2 separate regions of the Homo sapiens genome follow, and region 1 is linked to region 2. Evidence: fine-mapped QTL for protein levels in blood plasma. A gene starts in region 2. The other region holds a variant in brackets. All regions are shown on one strand. Distances are between the middles of the regions.

What was found. PIP is the posterior inclusion probability: the model's chance that the variant is causal. Protein levels are from antibody-based Olink assays in UK Biobank. Linkage for the fine-mapping came from a reference panel and not from the study's own genotypes, which makes the PIPs less certain.
Region 1: its variant is fine-mapped to the plasma level of the GPC1 protein (UK Biobank, PIP above 0.99).

The regions. Positions count from the first base shown.
Region 1 is chr2:240,464,812-240,473,113 of GRCh38, reverse strand. It overlaps GPC1 (glypican 1), which reads right to left. Exons shown (of 9, transcript NM_002081.3): 6 at 8,139-8,258; 7 at 7,904-8,037; 8 at 7,466-7,641; 9 at 5,038-7,056. The coding sequence ends at 6,824. It also overlaps a transcript of ANKMY1 not described here. Among named protein-coding and RNA genes, the nearest start is that of GPC1-AS1, 12 kb to the right of the region's middle. The variant G/A (reference allele first, on the strand shown) is at 5,090.
Region 2 is chr2:240,429,464-240,441,238 of GRCh38, reverse strand. GPC1 (glypican 1) reads right to left here and starts at 5,576. Exons shown (of 9, transcript NM_002081.3): 1 at 5,155-5,576. The coding sequence starts at 5,320. RefSeq lists enhancers at 3,074-3,575, 3,627-4,203, 5,937-6,513, 6,913-7,207 and silencers at 5,328-5,387, 5,448-6,107.

The DNA.
Region 1 (8,302 bases), 34 kb before region 2:
TCACTCTTGTCGCCCAGGCTGGAGTACAGTGGCACAATCTCAGCTCACTGCAGCCTCCGTCTCCCGGGTTCAAGAGATTCTCCCACCTCAGCCTCCTGAGTAGTGGGATTACAAGCATGCACCACCATGTCTGGTTAATTTTTATATTTTTAGTAGAGACGAGGTTTCACCGTGTTGGCCAGGCTGGTCTCGAACTCCTGACCTCAAGCAACCTACCTGCCTCAGCCTCCCAAAGTGCTGGGATGACAGGCATGAGCCACCATGCCCAGCTGTGGCATCATGTTGGCCTGATTCTTTATTATTCATAGAGCCTTGCATTGGTGTCTCAATTTGAAGCAGCAAACACCTCTTTCAGCCTTTACAGACTGATTTTTGGCAGATAAAGATCTGTTGGGTCTCTGAAGGGTTGCCTCCAGGATTAGTTTAGTCACATGGCTGCTGCTGAGTCTACAGTGGGGTTTGTGGTTGGTGAGTCTATTCAGGGAAGGAGCAGGCATTGAACATGTCTGGTCCCTGGGCAGACTGGACTGCCTCTAAGACCTTGAGGAACAGGGCTAGCTCTGGGACAAGGGTGCACTCAGTCACTGCGTGAGTCCCTGACAGGCAGGACTGACCCCAGACTGTGGTTAAAAGGAGATGAAACCAAGTCACAAGGCTGGTTTAAGGCTCACAGCTGAGACTGAGGTCTGTAGGCCTGCCTTTGGGGGCACAGATGGGCATGCCTCCTGTCAGGTTCTTGGGGAGGGCAGGACTGCCTTCAGACCATGGCAGAGTGGGGCTGGAGCTGGGTCACAGGGCTCCTTCAGCCTGTGCAGTTGTAGATTGGTAGGCCTGCCTCCCCGCGTGCGGCCGTAGATTGGTAGGCCTGCCTCCCCGCGTGCGGCCGTGGATTGGTAGGCCTGCCTCCCAGCGTACAGCTGGGCTTGTCTCAGTATCCCTGGGTGGGCAGGACCGCTCCAGGACTGTGACTGGGGAAGGATGGAGTAAACTCAGAACCATTTCAACACTTCTTTTGGGATTTTGTGGCCTAACTCAGACGAGTGTCTCCCAGCACGTCCTTGGGAAGGCAGGACTGCTTTCAGACTGCAGCTGAGGGGTTGGAGCTGACTTACAGGGCTATTTCGGGATCTGCAGTGGAACCAAGGTTGGTGGGCCTGCCTTCAGGGGGGATGGACTGGGGTATCTTCCAGGAGATCCCTGGGCAGATGGTTCCTGTGTCAGGAGAGCCAAACAAGGCTGCCATTGAGTCCATAGGGGGATGAGGCCATTTCTGGATCTGCAAAGGACCCCATTTGGCGAGCTGCAACCTGGGTGCAAACCTGCCCTCTTAAAACAGCCCTTCTCAGTTGGGCTCCATCAGGATTTCCCAGCCTCCTACCAGAGTCCTGAGGCTCCCACGAAGGCACTTTTGTGTGTGGATGGCTGCCAAATTCTTGTTGCAATGGGTGGCTAAAAGCAGGGGGTCCCCTGTTCTGCCATCTTGCTGACATTACTTCCACTTGGTACTTTTTCCAATCTCCTTGTTTTTTCTTTTTAAAAATGGAATTGTTCTATCCTTATGGTTTCTATTTCTCCCCCTTTTCGCTTTGATAACACAAAATACTTATTTTATAGACCATTTCAGTTTGCTCTGTCATCTAAAGTTCTCAGGGTGCTGCTGGCTCTGGTGGCAGATTTTATTTTATTTTTTCATTTTGAAATTTTAAAGAATCTTGTAATCTCAGCTACTTGGGAGGCTGAGGCAGGAGAATCGCTTGAACCCGGGAGGCAGAGGTCGCAGTGAGCTGAGATCACACCACTGCACTCCAGCCTGGTGACAGACAGATACTCTGTCTCAAAAAAAAAAAAAAAAAGAATTTGAGTTCCTGTCCCTGAGGCGTTGTGATTTCTCTGAGGGAATCTCACTTCCTCACTGTGGACAAACCCTCTAGGTACTTTTGTATTTACTCATTATCTTTTGTCACCAGCCACTGATTCTTCAAAAAGGAGGATTTTTTTTTTCCTGCCCAGATCCCTAGGCAGCAAAAGCTTCCCTGGCCCATCTCTGGCAATAGGGAGAACTTCGTTTCTTTGCGGTTTCCAGGTCACCTGGGGTTCCAGTTCCAGCTCCCAGCCCTCACCCAGGTCTGTGGGTACCCCTCACCCCAAGCTTCTATCCTGAGAGGGTATTTCTGTGCCTGATACACCACTCTCCCCACTTCCCATTCATTGAAGCCTCTCACTTTGTTTTTCTTTTCAGCACATGAGGTTTTTAGCTCTCCTGTGACCTCAGATAGGTATTAACTTTGCGAAACTGACTTTTTCCAGAATTTCAACGTGTCTGTGAGGAGAGGGGGTTATTTTAGCTGAGTCTACTGTGTTGCTGTGATCTTTTCAAAGTCAACATTTCCCAGTGTTTCCTCCTGTTTCTTTTAATTCTCACATCAGGACGCTTGGTCTGACTTCCCAGGCCGATGCTGCATATTTTGACGTCTCCTATGAGTTTTTTACTGGCTCTTTTTTTGTGCTTTCCCAGATTGAGTGTAAACATGGGTTTGTGCTAGAAACCATGAGGGTTCCTGTTCATATTTCCAGGCCATATGAAAGAAGGAGGGAAATGTTTAGACTCACTGGTTTTGCTTTGTGGGGTGGTCTCATCTGGGAGGGGCTGCTGTGCACACGGGGAGAGCTTGCTGGGCAGTGACTGCCTCCGGCTCATCCACAGCCCTGGCGTCTGTGAAGCCTGTGTGCTTTCCCCTCAGGAAAGCTGTGGTGGCCTTGTTGGGGTCTCTCAGAATCCCACCTTCCCTAGACTCTACCCACTTCTTTGATGGCTGTGACACATGCTGTCTGTTGGAGAGATGGACGCCCAGTTATGGTCCTTCCATGATTTCAGTAGTGGCTTAGGGCAGGAGGAAGGTGGACTGAGAGGTGGGAGTTAGTCGTCTGTCCCAAACTCAAGGGAGCACTGCGATTATAAATGGTGTTTCTCGACAGAGGGCCTTGTCCCCAGATAAAGAATACTTAGGGTCACCTGGACAGGAGCAGTGTGTGCACCCACGGGTGTGTCTGTCTCTGTGTGAGTGCATGCGTGTATACTGTGCATGTATGTAATGTGTGCATGTGTGTATGGGCATGTGTACCTGTCTACATGTGTGCACGTGCATAGGCCTGTGCACATGTGCATGCATGTGTATGGGCATGTGTACATGTGAGTGCATGCATGTGCAGGAGGATGTGTGTGCACGTGTATGGATATGTGTGCTTGTGTGTGTATGCACAGGGCATTGTACGTGTTCATACCTATGTGTGTGCATGTGTGTACATGTGTAGGAGTGTGCACATGTGCATGGGCATGTGGGCATGTGAGGACGTGCATGTGCAGAAGTGTGTGCACGTGTATGGATATGTGTGCTTGTGTGTGCATGTACAGGGTGTTGTATGTGTTCGTTTGTGTGTGTAAATGTGGAGTGCACATGTGCATGTGTGTGCACCGTGTGATGGGTGTATGTTCGTGTGGAGCAGACACCCATGCTGGCCTGCCGGGGCTGCCTGCAGATGGTGTGGGAGACGCTGGGGCCACCCACCACGGCTGGGCTGAGCTGCTCAAGGGAGGCTGACTGAGGGGCTGCTCTCTGCCCATCAGTGTGGGTGGGTCAGTTTGTCTGTGGCTTCTGGAATTCCTGTGAGGAACCGAGAGGGACTGAGAGCCAGCCCTGGCTGGAAGGGGTCTCTCCCTGAGCAGCCTCTTGGGGCAGCACTAGGGTGGGCAGAACTTGGGAGCTCCCTGGTGGTCTGAGGTGTGGCCGGGAAGGCAGGGCTGAGACCAGCCGGGTGCCCCTGCCCACCCACTCCTGGCGTGGTGTCGGCTCTGCACAGAGTGCACACGCACCTGTGTCCTCCTTTCCCTGACATGAAAGATGCATTTGCCCAGGTTCAAAAAGGGCTTGTGGAAGTCTTGAAGCAGCTGGGCAAGGTGGTGCCTGGAAGCCTGAGATCCTGCCGGCTGGACCAAATGCGTTGTCCACAACTACAGCCGCTGATGAGTGTCTGGCTGCTCACCTGTCCCCTAGGGGCCCCGCTGAGCCCCCAGGCTGCATCCCCTGGCCCGCCACGGAGAGGACTCCACCCCACCCTCATTTCCCAGGGGAGGAGCCGGGCCTCTGGGACTTGCGGAGGGGCCTGCAAGTGAGGACCGTGGCTACCAGGGACCTGGCGGCTGCAGATGCTTTGTGGGAGGCCTGTGTGCAGCCCTTCGTCCTGCCCGGAGCTGGGACCTACTAAGCAGTGGAGTTCAGCAGGGCTGGGTGGAGCTGCATCTCCCTCCTGGGGTGCCCACCCACCCCTCTGTGCTCTCACGCTCACAAGGGGCCTGGAGGTCCCAGTTGCTAGGGGGCCCTCTATTCCTGGGTCCCAGATGATGGAAACGCAATGTTAAAAATGTTCACCAGACCAACCTGTACTGGCTGCAATTCTCAATAAAGCAGTTGAGGGACACACCCAGAACAGTGGGCGCTTCTGCCAGTGCCGCCGTGCCACTTAGCCTCTGGCCATGACCCCACAGGAACAGGAGCGGGGCTATAGGGAGCCCCTAGGGTTATACAGGACCCTCCGCCTCGAGAGAAAGGTGGCTGGGGACAAACTGGACCACCAGGGCATCCTTGGGACAATGCTGGTTCCTTCTCTCTAGCCCCTTGGGCATCTCTGAGGCCACCTGGCAGGAACCAGAACCTTCCAGGGGTAGAGGATCTCTGTGCTGTGTGTGCCCAGAGCAGGGGCAGGAGGCAGGAAGAGGTAGATGGGAGGTGGGGCCTGCTGGAGGCCATCTGGGTCTCCGTGCCCTGGCCTTTTCCTTCTCCCCTGCACCAAGGAGAGGGGCGGACAGACCGGAGTCTGTCCAGGGCAAGGTGGAGCTGCAGACAGGCTGAAGGGCGCAGCTGGCAGGGGCTGCACGTTCACCCCAAACACGGAAGTGTGGTCCATGCCCAAGCCCCAGACAGACAGACACACACACACATACGCACACATTCTCTCTCCCCCCGAGGCCTCGCCCTGCTGTAGGTTTCCAGCCTTTTATTCATACAAGGACTCAAAAGAACACACGTCACCC[G/A]CTGACACTGAGCGGTGGGGGGACCTTGTGGAGGAAGGACACAGCAGGCTTGGCCACTGCCCTGACCAGTGACCACTCAGGGCTGCCCCTTCCAGAGATGAGCGTAGGGTGGGGTCTGAGCGCCACCCCTAGGCCGTCTGTGTGCAGCGGGAGTGCTGCTGTCCTGGCGCCCGGCATCACTGTGCCAGAGTCCCCAGCCCACCCTGGCACTGGCAGGGTTATTATGGGGTGGACTTGCCTGTGTTGGGGGCTCCTGATCCCAAAACATCTAAAGTCAGGTTCCAGAGAACAAGCCATGGGGACCTGACCAGCAACCGGGGACCTCCGTCCACTGTGCGGGACGGTGATGAAAAGCAAAGCAGCACTAAGCGGCCTCCTCAGGGTCAGTCGGTTCAGGACAGCTGCCCCCAGACCCTCCAAGTCCTCCTCCCCCTGCAGGACCCCTTCCCAACACCACACCACCCCTCCCCAGGGCCGCCTGGCAGCTGGGGCACAGGAGGGAAGGAGGGCCCGTCCAGGCCTGGGGCAGGGCCCTGATGGCCTCAGTGAGTGACAGGAGGTCACCAGGGTCCAAGGTGGGCCCTGCGGCCCTCCGAAGCCATCTGGGAGGAGCGAACAGCTCTCCATGAACAAGGACAGGAAGTGTCAGTAAATGGATGCATGTTTGGAAAAGCCCTTAACTATCCAGGTCCCCGTGCCCTGCAGCTGGCTGGGTCGGGAAGGGACCTAGGCATTCCCGTCTGCAGTGCGGGGTCTCACCAGCCACCAGCATCCCTGTGAGCAGGTGACAGCTGAGGGTCACTCTGAGCCCTGACCTGTGTCACCGTGAACAGGGAGGCCCTGGTTCCTGATCTGGGTGAGGATGGGAGCAGGCGGGTCCTGGCTGCTCCTCAGCCCTCGGGGTCCTCCAACAGCCCTGGACCCCAGCAAGGCCTGCCCTGTGAGCCCTGTGTGCGAGGGGCAGCCCACATTGGCAGAGCCCACGCTGCCTCCCTGGGCCTTTGGGCCCAGCTTCCCCTCCTCCAGCAGAAGCGCAGGTGGGTCAGTGGCCCCTCATCTGCGCATGGAGGGCCCCTCACTGCAGGTCTGTGGGAGGACAGTCCTCAGACTCCTCAGCAGTGGTGCTGTCTCAGGCGTCACCCTGCAGACGCTGGGGCCCCTCAAGGGCGCAGGGAGGTGGGGCCGGGCTCTGCAGCCTGCGCTGAGGGGAGGGCATCATGCATCATCTCAGAGGCTCTGCCAGACCCTGGATGGCGGACACCCAGACAGCCCGTGCGGGGCTTCTCTGGAGGCTGGGGGGTGGGCCAGGGCTGGCTGGTGGGCTCTGCTGGGAGTCCCAGTGGGAGGAGGCGGGGAGGAAGGCACAGGCTCGCTGTGGGCTCCAGCGGGTTGCTTTGAGGCCTCCTCTGTAGGCCTCGAGGGGCTGCTTCTGCGGCGGTGCAGGGAGCTGGGGGGAGGGCTAGGCAGCCGGAGGTGCCCCTGAGGTCCCTGAAATACATGGCTTTTGGGCACACTGGCTCCCAGCTGACCTGAGGACCTCATACAAAATTAAAAGGCAGAAAGGCAGGCGAGGCCAGGCCTGGGGCTGGGACCTCTGCGCCTGCCCCTGCTCAGAGCCGCCGGCCCTCCCTGTCCCACCCCAGGCCTCTCCAGGCTGAGGTGAATTAAATATCGTCTGTGTTGTATTTTTGGCAAAGTCAGTCCTTGGCCTCTGTCCCTGGGGCCTTGGGGCAGTTACCGCCACCGGGGCCTGGCTACTGTAAGGGCCAGGAAGAGGAGGAGGGGCAGGAGGAAGGTCGGGGGCTGGGGGCAGCTGGCAGCCGAGGTCTTCTGTCCTTCCTGCTCTGACAGGCCTGGGAGGGCATGGGTCAAGGGCGTCCGGGAGCTGGAGCTCTTCCTGCTGACCTTCCGGCTGCAGAGGTCATCCAGACAGCCATCACCGCTGCCCGAGCCGCTGCCGTCGTCACCTGGGAAGGAGAGGAGGCTCCGGCAGGCAGGTCCCCACAGGAGACCCCAGTGCAGCACCACCCTGTAAGGGCCCGTGCCAGGTGACCCCAACATCCTTTCGGTGTGGAATCCCAGGACCAGCAGCACCTGATCCCCGCTGACCCCTGAGGCTGGGAGACTCTCACTCCCTGGGGCTGCCTCCCTTGGTCCCTGGAGCCAAAGCCAACAGACATCCCGGCCAGGCCTCCAGGGCGCCGCAGAGGTGCAGGGCTCGGTGATCGTGCCTGGGCAGCACAGCGTCCTCAGACTCACTGTGGTGATGCCGGAGCAGAGGGCCCCTCGGGTGGGGGAACCCGGAGGGCAGTCACACCCCTGTGGCACCCCCACCAACCCTGGCCCCTTGGCCGCCCGGCCAGGCCCTGCCCTCACTGGCGTCCTGGAAGTCCACGTCGTTGCCGTTGTAGGCGCTGCGCAGCCGGTTGGTCATGATCTTCAGCTGCATGATCTGCTGCCGGATGGTCATGTCCGGCTTGGTGATGTCCACCTCCACCTCGGGGTTGTTGATCTGGTTGGCCAGGCCGTCACCCATGACCTCGGGGAGGTACCTGGGGGAAAGGCAGGCAGAGCCCAGGTCACTGCTCCAGCCCCTGCAAAGGGCCATCACCTGAGCAGGACACTCTCCCACGCTCTGAGCCTGAGATGCCCAGCAGCTTCCAGGGACCGAGCAGAGCCCACACAGGCCGCAGAGAAGTGGGGCTCAAGCCCTCCAGCAAGGGACGTGGCCCCGTGCAGACAGCACCTGGCCCAGGCACAGCCCAATGGAGGCGGCATGGGAGGGAGGGCTGTGCCAGCCAGGTGGGCACCTACCGGCCTCTGGCCATCCCGTTCCAGCAGCGGTCATCACTGGCAGTGCTCAGGGCCATCTTCTCACTGCACAGTGTCCCTGGGAGGCTGATCCAGAAGTCCTGGACGTCGCGGAGCTGGGCCTTGGCTTCGGAGACCTGTGGGGCAGCAGTCAGGCCACTGGGCTGCCAGGGCCCGCCCGCCTCTGCCTGTCTGCCTCCCTCATGCCTGGTCCAGTGGACACGCAGGGGCCACTCACCAGCTTCTCCAGCGTGCCTGAAGGTGGCCTCTCCCGCGGGGCCAGCTTGCCCCGGCGCCGCTTCTCCTCAGGCCCGGGGCCCTGGGGGTTGACCTTGGGGTTCCCGCAGCCCTGGATGACCTGGAGAGACACTGCAGGGTCCTTGGGGGGTAGTGGGGCCCCTC
Region 2 (11,775 bases):
GACACCCACTAAGCTCTCCTCCGAGGTCTGATGTGCAGCCCTGCGGTTCGGCCACCAGGTAGGTATGCCCCCCGTCCTGCTGTAGGGAGGCGTCCTCGGTACCTGGGAAGGCGCGTTAACCACAGGCTCACACTGTCCCTAGAGATTGCTGGTGTGAAGGTACAAGCCCCAACAGACTGGACTGCCTTATCTCCCTGGCTTGGCACCTGTGGGCACCTGAATAGGGTACCTGTCCACTAATCCTGGGGCACTTGGCCCAGTGTGGGTGGCTGGTCTGCCCTGTTGGGGACATGCAGGGCTTCGTGGCACACGCTGGGAACAGCCCTCCTAGCAGTCCTGCCCCCCACAGGCAGTGGAGCCAGGCCGGAGGGTGAGGCCCAGCTGTGTGGAAGTACGACTCTCTGGGCGGCACGGCCAGGAGGAGCTGGGCAAGACCGGAGGCAGGGAGGCCAGGAGGAGCTGGGCAGGACCGGAGGCAGGGAGGCCAGGAGGAGCTGGGCAGGACCGGAGGCAGGGAGGCCAGGAGGAGCTGGGCAGGACCGGAGGCAGGGAGGCCAGGAGGAGCTGGGCAGGACCGGAGGCAGGGAGGCCAGGAGGAGCTGGGCAGGACCGGAGGCAGGGAGGCCAGGAGGAGCTGGGCAGGACCGGAGGCAGGGAGGCCAGGAGGAGCTGGGCAGGACCGGAGGCAGGGAGGCCAGGAGGAGTCCCGGTTAAACGTTCTAAATGAGCCTAAGAGATGGAGCCCAGGCCCAGGACAGGAGAGCGGGCTGGGAAAAGCACGAGCCTTCCAAGAAGTGCAGAGCCTGGGACAAGCAGCCTGGCCTGGCTTTACTGGGCAGTGGTCAATGCTGTAGCCAGATCTGGCCCTAAGAGGAGCGCTTCACCAGGCTTCGGTTTACTCATTTGTAAAACAGGTCTACAAAGACCCCTTCCGTCTGATGTGTTAACCAGACAGTCATGGGAAACGCTCCACAAGCCGGGTTTCCCCGTGTTCTAAGAGCACCCGGGTTCATGAGTGCTCTTAGGGTACCGGATGCCATTAACTGAGAGGGGTGTGTGTGGGCCTTTGCAGAGGGTGTCCGGGGAGAGGGGGGACACAGCCCGAGGCTGCCCACGAGGTGCACAGCCCCAGCACCTTCTCCCTCCTGGCCACCTTCACAGGAGGTCACGATTATTCCCTTTCTCTCCTGTGAAAAGGCCCGGGGACACCGGGGATGGGATGGGGGTGGGGGCATCTGTGCCTGAGGAGTGCTGTGGCCTGCCTGGCATGGGAGGCTTGGCGGTCCAGCAGGGACCCAGGCCATTGCATCACGCAGGTGGCCCTGTCGGATCAGGGCTCCCCTGGGCTCCGCTCGGTCCTCACGCTGGGGATGATGAGCTCCTCTCATGGAGGGAAGAGCAGCGACACAGCAAAGGCTGAGGACCACCTGGGAACCACGCTGAGCCACCTGGACAGGACAGGGCACAGGGAACTGTCTGGTCTGGTGAGGGGCTGTGTGCCAGGCAGCCTCCGAGAGGCCCGCTGAGCAGGACTGAGAAGCAGATGCTGGTGGGCTCTCCCGGGCCCAGCCGGAAACACCCTTTCAGGGATGTGGGAAGGAGAGGTCCAGGCCCTCTGAGGATGGTTCCCCAGAGTCTGTGTGCCAACCACCCAGGCGGTCAAAAGTGGCACAGAGAAGAAAAGATTCCTTCGGAGGGGCCCAACGAGTGGGTGCTTGGTACAGGCTCCAGGGCACGCTGGTGCCCGCTCCAGCTGGTAGGCGGGCTGCCACTCTGGGCACAGGAGCGGCTGGGCAGTTTCTGTGCCACCGACAGTCCCATGCCCCACTCTGACTTCTGCCCCCAAAACTAGACCTTAGGGCCCCTCCTCTGCCTCAGGCTGGGAGACCCTGAGAACAGGGGTGTCTGCTCCAAGGAGACCCTCCTCTACCCTCCATGTCCCGCTCCCCACCCAGCACAGCCAGGTATAAAGCCAGGAAGGCCTGGGGGTGTCCTCCGAGAAGCTATCCTGGGCCGGGAGCCAGCCGGGTTCTGTGGCTACAACAGGGAAACAGTTAGAGGTGGTCCCAGCGACCAGGGAGCTCAGGTGCCAAGGTGGGGCGCTGAGACCCCAGCAAAGGAGCAAACAGACACACATCACATCACATCAGACATCAGGAGGCCAGACAGGTGCTCTGGGAACACCTATGCCCAGACACAACCTTGCAAGCAAAAGCAGGAGGCCTGCTGGCACGCGGGCAGTGATTCAGCATGAGGGCTCCTGGCAGCGCAGGGGCACCCGGGGTGCCACTCGGCTCCGCCCTTGCCTTCTGTGCCGTGCCCTGGCATAAAGGGAGGGTGGCCGGGTGCCCTGCTGCAGTGCCACCGTCCAGCTGGTGGCACCCAGGCCTGCTTCCTTGCCCATAAAATGGGATGACCACTGCTGTCACTGCAGCCTGGCCTGGCTGTCCAGAGGACAAAGGAAGTCTCAAAAGGGAGCCCAATATGTCCCGACACTGCCCTCTTTCATGAGCTAAGTCTCCTGTCACCCACTGCCTTTTCTGGTCCCTGGGGCAGAGGCTGGGAAGGCCCGCCACACACCCAGGGCCAACTGCTCTCCTTCCCACGAGGAAGTATCAGATCTCTACCCCACCTGCTCCGGGCCAGCGAGGTGCCCAACCCCAGGGGGTTCGCATTCCCTCTGAGGAGGTCCCCCTGGAGAAGTCTGGATGCAGGAGAGAGGGGACTGAGAATGGTGCCTACTAGGCCACAGAGGGTCCAGGGCTCCTGGGAGGATCTGCCGCCCAGGGGCCACCAGAGGGCGCCCGTTCCACGGAGCCCAGGCCCAGCCGACAAAGCAGGAGGGGACACTGGGCTTGGCTGCCCCAGGACTGCTGCGACCCGAGGGAGTCACCCTGTTTCCCTCAGCCCACGTGGCTCCCACACTGTCTTCTGTACCCTGGGTCCCGAAGGTTACTCCCCACTTCTGCAGCCATAGGGGGTGCAGGGAGAGAGGTTCCTGTCGGAGGGGCACCGACTGGAGAGGCAGTAATCCTGCCCAGTGCAGTCCTGGCCTTGCAAGTCTGGAGGAGGGTGGCACCCCGAGCCCTGGCAGCAGGCACTGGCCCATGGCTGGCACCGTGGTTAGACAGCTGCAGGGCGTTCGTACTCCCCACGCGGGGTGGACAGCATCCCCTGCCCCATCAGACACAGAGAAATCAACACAATCTGCCTGTCCTGGGTCCCTAACCCACTGCATTCCCCAACCCAAGAGCAGCACGACCCACACTCTCTGGCCCAGCCCCACATCAACTTCTCCATCTTGTCCTGCCCTCTCTTCTCACCCTTGGGAGATGGCCAAACTCTGCCACTCTGTCTCTCTAACTGGCAACAGTGGCCTGTGGATGCAAGGAAGGTTAGGTTGGCTCCTAAGGATGCAACTGCCCAGAGGACATGGAGGTGCTAAGAAGGGCTGGGGGCTAATGGTTTCCAAAGGAGCAGGGTTCAAGACTCTGGGCTGGGAGGGGCAGCCACTCAGCCACTCTGCTACCCTGGTGCCTGGGGAGGGATTCACCAGGAAGGCCAGGGATGCCTCTTTATGTGTGAGTAGAGGGGCAGAGAACGAACCCAACTGTGCCGAGGGCCTTGTGCTGCCTGGCATCCAGGTGTGCCCCCTACCTGGGACAGACAGAGCCCAGTGGGGTGAGGGGGGCAGCCTGGAAATGACAGGGTTGCCTCTGCAGAGGCACAGGAAGGCCTGTCCTGGGGACTTTGGAGGGGTCCTTGCAAGAACCTCAGGCTGGTGGGGAGGGCATCGGGAGATCCGCCAAGGGACTGTCTGCGGGTTCTGTTCCTTCTGTGGGGGGCGGTCAGGGGGCCCTTACAAGAACCTCAGGCTGGGGGCATCGGGAGATCCACCAAGGGCAAGGGGCTGTCTGTGGGTTCTGTTCCTCCTGGAGGGGCAGGGGTCCAGAGCCCGACTGCCTCCTCCCACCACTCCGCCCCCCGCGGCAAGGCATGGCCACAGACCCCCCTCACCCAGATGCACGGATCCTTCTTGCTCAGAATCCCCAGGACCATGGGCATTTCTGCGCTGAGTCCCCATCTGAGTAGCCCTCCACCCGCACTCCCACTCCCCTGGTTTCAGAGGAGCCCCCCAGAGCAGGAACCTAGTCTGTTTTGTTCTTGCCCACTGGGTCCCTGGCACGCGGTACAGACCGAGGTTGGTTCCCACACGTGGAAAGGTGAAGCTTGGGTTCCAAGAGTTCCTTAGCACACGGAGCCCACCGTTCCACCCACCCGTACACTTCTGTCCCCAAAGCTCCTCCGGGACCACAGGGAGGGAAGAGGCAGAGCCGCAGGCGGCTGCAGGGCTTAGGGGGCGCCAAGAGGGCCGCTGTTCTTACAAAGAAATGACACGGCCCCTGGGCGGGATCCAACGCGCCGACCACCTGCAGCTGGACTCGCGGCACGAGGCTGCCCAAGCGCCAGGCGGGGGCCGGCGCGTACAAGTTCTTCGACAGGAATCTCTACGAGGCGGCGGCGTTCCGCCCGCGGATAAGTGCCCAGCTCCCTCCCCACCCCTCCGCACTACCCCCCGAGGGGGTCAGCTTATAAAACCCACCTAGGCTGCCTTTGCTGGAGACCCTACGAGAATCCCCGGGCAGGACCGGAGACGCCTCCCAGAGAGGTCTGTACAGAGCAGAAGGGGTCCGCGGCCACCGTCAGCGGCGCCCCGAAAGCCCGGCCACGCCGAGCCCCACAGCGCCCCGACAGCCGGCCCCGGGGCTGGGACTCCCGGCCTGCAGGCGCGCTGGGCCGAGCGGCGGGCAGAAGACGCCCAGCTCCAGCCGTGGCCCGGGAGGAGCGCCCCGAGCCCGCAGCCCGGCGAGATCAGCTCCGCAGGGAAGAAGCCGGCGTGCGGGGGGCGGGGAGGGGCGGAGGACGACCGAGCGGGGCGGAGGAGACCCTGGCGAGGGAGTGCGGCGCGGGGCTTGGAGGCGAGGGCCGTGGGGTTGCAGAGGAGCCGCAGCGCAGGGAGCCATTCGGGGCCCGGGCGGCGGGGCGCAGGCGGCAGGATCCCGCGCCGGGGGCGAGTAGCCGCGTCGGGAAGACCAGGGTCCGGAGCCCAAAGCCCGGCCAGGCCCGGGTTCCCGGCGCCGCGCCCTCACTCACCCGAGATCTCCGCCTGGGGCACGTCGCTCAGGCTGAAGCCCTTGGCTCCGTAGATCTGGCGGACCTCGCCGCAGCTCCGGCTCTTGCTGGCCGGGTCCCCGCGGGCGCAGGCGACCAGCGCTGCGGCCGCACATAGCAGCCACCAGCCTCGGGCCCGGAGCTCCATGGCGGGGCCGGCGGCGCCCCCGGCCACCCGCCCGCGCCTCTCTCGGATCCTGGCCGGGTCCTGCGCAGTTCCCGCCCGCGAAGGGCAGAGCCAAGGTCCCGGCGCGCGCGGCTCGCGGTCCAGAGGCGGCGGCGGCCGAGGAGGCGGAGACAACAAAAGCCGGCGGCGGCGGCGGCGCGGGGCGCGCGGGGTGCGAGGTCCGAACGCTCGCTCGGGCAGCCCAGAGCGCGGCGGGCTAGCGCAGTCCCGGCTCGGCGCCTCCCCCGCCGCCGGCCCGGCCCCTAGGCGGCCGCGGGAGAGGAGAGGGGCGGGGCAGGGTGGGAGCGCAGGGGTGGGGGAGGGACTGGGAGCACCGGGCGGGGCGGGGCGGGGCGCGGCGCGGGGGCGCGGGCCGGGGCGCACTGGGCGCTCCTCTGGCTCTTAGGGACCCAGAGGGCCCGCCTGGCCGCGCGACTCTATCGATCCCCGGCGGGAGGCGGCGGAGCCGGGCAGCGCGGGGCCGCGGCCGGGGTCCCCGAGGGCGGCCCCCCACGCCCAGCGCCCAGGGCGGTGGCACCACCTGTGGGGGCGGGGACGGGGGCGGAGGGTGCGCGAGGCAGGGCTTCCCCCGCCGGACGTGACATCACGCCTCCCGCGCCCCAATCAGGGGCCTCCCCGCCCCCAGCCGAAATCGGCATCCCGCTCCCCGCTCCCTCCCGCGCGCTCCGGCTTCCTGCACCCTGGCAGCGCGCCCCGAGAACGCTCTCCCGGCGCCTCCGTACCCTCCGCCCGCCGGCCGCGCCTCGAGCCGCCGCCCCTCTCCCCGCCTGCACCCCGCAGCGGCTCCCTCCCCGCGCCCTTCCAGCCGTCTCGCGCTGGGCTCCGGCTCGCACCGGGGGCTTTTGTGGTGTGGGGGCTGCACGCAGGAAACTCGCCAAGAAACTCGACCTCACCTCTCCCAGTCCCAGGGAGCGGCAACAGATGGCTTAATTGTTGGACCTTGACAGCTGTTTTGGGGGGGTGACCCTCCACGTTCTTTGGATGCTGGAGAAACCAAAGTGATGGGGCAGGGCCGGTCTACTGGTTTGGGCTGCTGGGTGGGGCCAGATGACCTCTGGAGAAGGGATAGGGTTGGAACCCGGCGACTAGTTAGGCCACTGGGGGAGGAGGGTGGAGTGAGCCGGAGCAGATGCCTCTTTGAAGAAGGCGGGAGGGCTGCCTGCACCTTGTATGGTAGGAGGGCGCGTGGCTTTAGCTGCACATGGGGAGTTGGGCTGGATGGGGTCTGTAGGGAGGGGGCGAGGACTGCGATGTTGGTGTCTGGAGGGCTTCACTCCTTCCTTGGCTCCCAGACCCCCCACCCCGGCCCCCTGTTCTCCACATGGTAAGGCCTGGCGGTGAAGCCAGGTGCCTGAGCTGCAGAATTGGGGGCAGGCATAGAGGTCAGTATCCTTGGCAGAGAACCTCAAGATGACCCCCATGTACAGCAAGGGTGTCCTGATTTCAGGGCCTGTGGCATCACCTGGAAGCTGCAGCGGGGTCCGTGGTGGGGGTGGTGGCAACATTCCCTACCCCTTCTGTGCCTGGGGCTCTCAGCCGCTGTGTGGGGCTGGAGCAGGAAGGTGGGGTGCCCTCCCCCTGGGCTCTTGGGGTTTCCTGCCCTGCCTCCCAGAGAAGGTTGCTCCTTCACCCAGAGACACTGAGTCATTGCTGGAGAGGGAGGCTTTGGGGACCCAATCCAAGTGTGCATTTCCCTGCCCTCCCCCACATACCCTCTGCTGCGTCACATTTTGTGACTCACAGACCCCTGTTCAGTACATGCTCCAGGCTTGCTCCTTCTTGCCTGGGCCTGGCGTGGCTGCCTGCACACCTTATCCAGCACGGTCAGGAGCCTGGGCCCACGATCCCGCTCTCTCTCTGTGTGGTCTCACGCACTGCGGGATCAGGCAGGGCTGCCTGGGCCTAGGAAGCTGGACTTGAGGTTAACCCGGCCTGAGGCTCTATAGTTACCCCGTCACTGTCTACGCCTCCTCTTAATCTGACCAGGTTGGGTTATTCCTCCAGGCAAGTCCTTCCTCCAGCCTAGTTCTGGGCCTCTGGATGGCAGTGTGGACAGCAGGGCTTAGAACGCGATGGTGGCAGCCTCTGCCTGGCCCTGGTGACCCCTGGGTGGCTTCATCTCCTAAGGAAGTCCTTACCACCATCGCAGGTCCTGGAATCATTCCCATTCCGCAGGCCAGGAGACCTGTAGCCAGGGCCTTCCCTGGAGAGGATGCACATGCCGCCGGGGGCATTGGAAGCAAAAGCCGTGTTTGCACCTGGGAGGAGCCGCAGGATCCTGAGCAGCTGCAGCTACCCCTGCTTCCCTCCTGGCAATGCTGCACACGCCCGCTGTCACCAGGGCAGGAGCCGCCAGGCTGCCCGTGCTAGTCGGGTGCAGGGTCCAGACTGGGACTCTGGGAGGATGGGCAAGGCTGATCAGCCCCCTCTTCCACCGCTGTCCCTGGGGCCGCTCCACACAGGACACGTGGATGGGTTTGAGGACATAGTTGATGCCTCGAATCCCAGCCACCACAGTGACCCTTGTGGCTCTGACCAAGACCACCCCCTCCTGCTTTGGTGTCTTTGCCTGGCTAGACAGTGGGGGCACACGTATGCGACACAAAGAAGGAATGAATGAGCAAGTGAGGAAACACCTGAGAGGAAAAGTTTGTCCCTGAGAGTGGGCGTGTGGCGCAGCCTGGACCTGCTCTTCCACAGGTGCAGTGAGGGCAGAGGACACTTAGCATTGTCTGACGGGCTGAGGCAGGCAGTGCCTGTTGGGCCAGGGCGTGGGGGCCTCCCTTCCATGCCCCCATCTTCTGTGGAGGACCCCAGGTCCTGGAGGGCGTGTACTGCTGGCTTAGGGCCCACTCCTGCCTCTGCCTAGGGAGGGTGGGGGTCTGCGGGATGCTGAGCCTGGTCTCTGCTCAGAAGACACAGGGAGCGCCGGGGGGCCCGCAGCTCCCAGCCGTTCGGACGGCAGGTCTGCCCAGAAATTATCCTACTTTTGCTCCGTGGAACCCTCGTGAGTGTGCACGCCCTTGCCCGCTGCCATGGACGGACAGCTTCCCTTTCTGTTTGGTTTCAGGGATTGTCTTTCGGAGACTCCAAAAGTAAGTTTCCAAACAGACTGAGCGATTGTTGTCGCTGCCATCCATGGCTGCCTTCTTGTGAATGTCACTGCCTGTAGCATCCCTACCTACGAGAGCCCTGTCCTACTGGCCGTGGGAGGCAGGAGTGCGCGCGTGTGCCTGCAGACAGCAGGGGTTCAAGGGCGTGGACTAGGGCTGGCTGGGATGTGGCATCTGATCTGTTAGAGCACCCAGGAGGTGTTTTGGTGCCCTGGGGCATAGTGGAGGATGTAGGGTCCCCACACCTCTGTGGGGGTCTGGGGACCCCTTGGGCAGCAGCCTGAAGGAGGAAGTGGATACCCCAGCATGTGGCTGATGAAGGGAACATGGTCCCCAGGAGTGGCTGGCAGCCCTGGGCAGAGCAGGGTGGGCAGGACAGCCTGCCTGCAGAGCTGGAGATCTTTCTGCAAATGGTAATCAGGGTGCCTGCCAGAAAGAAGCGGGGCTCTGGGCAGCTCTACAGGGCTTAGCGATGGGGAGGGGATCTGCCCCAGGGCCTGCTCTGGCCCATGGACTCCACCTCCAGCTCACCCCGTGCTTCCTGCCCTGCCTTTTGGTGGTGACACTTGGGGAACATTCATCCGGTCTCTCATTCTGGTGCTGGCTCAGGGAGCCGCTGTCATCTCATGAAGGAGCTCGGCTCCAGACGACCCTGCAGGATTGTACTCGTGTGGGGTCTGTGAGGTGGGGTGCTGGTCCCTGCTCTGCCTGGACACTCAGTGGTACCCTGGAAGGTCTTCCAGCCCTGAGCCAGGACCCTAATCTACAGGAGTTCGGCTTTGAGTCTGAACCCTAGGGCTGCCCTGGCTTCCCCAACTTAGGGGCTGCCACTGGGCAGTGAGGGTGGGTGGACAAGGGCGCCAGCTGGGCAGAGTTTGCAGGACTGAGAAAACCTGGCACCATTATTCTCAAAGGAGGTCATACCTGCACCTCCCTCCACCTCTCTCCAAGCCCCTGCCGTGGGGCAGTCAACTTGAAGGTGAAGCTGTTTGGAGCCTGCTCTGCTCTGCTGGGTCCTTTTGATCAGCAGAAGTCTGGGCTGGCCTCCCTTATCCAGGTCAGAGGAGAGCAAGCCTTTTCAGTGAGGCTGGGTCACCCGTGTGGTAGGTGGGGTCAGAAGAATGCACCTGTGGCCCCTCCAAGAGCTGGCACCTGTTTCTCTAGTCTGAGGACCCTGGTAGCAAGAGATGACCCCAAACACTCCACTCTGGGCTGAGCTGGGTTTGGCCTTCCCTGTGGCTGTTTTCCTGCCCCTCCCCACCCTGACTCTTGGCCTGGTCTCCTTGAGGAGAGGGAGCAGATGGGGGCACTCCGGCACTGTCTGCTATGTTAGGACAAAGCACCCCACACACCTGGAGCTCAGAGACCCACGTGCACGCTTTGGTGTCCCCAGCACCAGCAGCTCATGGCTTTCCTGCCAGGTCCTGTCTGCTCTGTGTGTGGCTCCTGCCCTTCCCTCCACCTCTCCCCTTCTGGACCATTGCTGGCTTTTGACCTATTCCTCCTGCAGTCCATACTGCCTGGCTGATCATTTGAAAACCAGCTTCAATCCGAAGCCTGCAAGGACTCTGAAGATCAGAATGCAGCTGCCCTCAGCCACAGTGCAGGAGCCCCTGAGCCTCCCCCTCCTCTCAAGGGGTCCAGGAAGCTGAACGTTCTTCCCCTCCCCATTCAGATTCCAGGGTCACCTCAAACCTTCCCCTAAGCTTAGGGAAGGCCTAAAGTTGCCTTCAGCTCCAGAGGTCTGGAGTTGAAGGGTTTCATTTCCCTGTAGATGAGGCTCCTAAGGTCTGAGGGGGTCGGACTGTGGCCCTGTCCCGCCTCCCACTGCCCTTCTGCAGGCTTGTCTGAAGAGCTTGCTTGGTCCCCAAAGCAAAGAGCCGTTTCCAGGGTGAGGCCAACTGGAGGCATCCTCTGAGCTGCTCTGCAGGTAAGGGTTTGCCTCTGGACCATGCTGGCCTGGAAGGGTGGCACTGTCCACGCCACACTCCCAACCTTCCCTGCTCCTGGGGAGGGTGTCCTGGGATGCTCAAGGCCCTTTGAGGGGAGTTGTCCAGTTGGTGACAGGAACATGGCCGGGGCACCCTCTTCAGCCAACCTTTTCTCTGGAAGACCAGAGAACAAGACAGCAGGCATCTGTCCTCCTGGGCAGGAGCCACCAGCCTGCATGTGGGGAGGTGGCTGTGGCTTCCATGGCCCTGGCTGGCAAGCCATGGGCTGGGGGTGGGGGGGGTTGGGGGCCTGCACACCTGGCTGCGGAGGACACAGGCCTGTACTGTGTCAGGGCCTAGAGCAGCCAGAGTGCTCACAGTGGCCTGCCCTGTGTGCCGCCGGCCTGCGCTGGGTGGGAGGGAATCCAGGGGCTCAGTGGAAGAGCCGTCTCCTAAGGGGGAGGCCTTGCCAGGGCCCACCGAGCAGGGTCTTGCAACCTTGGCAGGTGAGGCTGAGTCACAGGCGAGAGAGGCACCTGCATGGTGCAGCTGAGGGAGGACTGTAGCCTCCCTGGCCTGCTGGTCCTCTCTGGGAATCCTATTTTCCTGAGGAGGCGAAACTGCCGCATCCGAGTGTCTGTTTCTCTGTGCAATAGTAATGCCCCGCTAGGTGGCAGGGGACAGGTGTCCTGAGCGTTGGACGGCTGAAGGGCAAGGGAGCCCCTGAGGCCTGTGGGAGGGAAGGGGTGGTGCAAGGCCTCTTCTGGGGACAGGGACAGGCTGCCTGGTCCCTGGGGAGGGGGATGGGGGAAGGGTTGGTTTTATTTGCCCTGCAGCCACCGGCACAACCAGAGGTGAAGGCAGCTGCAGGGCCCTCCTGGACACAGTGGGAGTGTCCAGGGAGGGAAGGAGGAGGGGGGCTGGAACAAGACACAGCCGAGGACTTGGGAGGAGGAGAGGCTGAAGCCGTAGACAACGGCTGAGGACCAGGGAGGAGGAGAGGCCCTGACCACACCCTGCAACCATGGCCTGGCCCATGGGTCACACCTACAGCCAAGCTCAGCCACATCGGGTCAGCTCTGGCTGGCCCACCCGTGCTGGGGAGTGGGCAGGCACTAGTGGTGGCGAGGCCCCTCCCTAAAGGTGGCGTTGACCAGCCCACCTGGCCTTGGTCCCCTACCTTCAACGAAAGTCTGGCAAAGGCATCCTGAGAAGGTGACAGAGGGAAGCCCTGCCCTTCCAGAGGGCCTCAGGCCAAAGTGCTCCCCAGACCTGGGGCTGCGGCCCAGGGAGGGCGGCCAAGGGAGGCTTAGACACCTGGCCTCTGGGCCTCATTTTAGGGAGGCGAGGTGACTCTCAGGCAGGTGCAGGG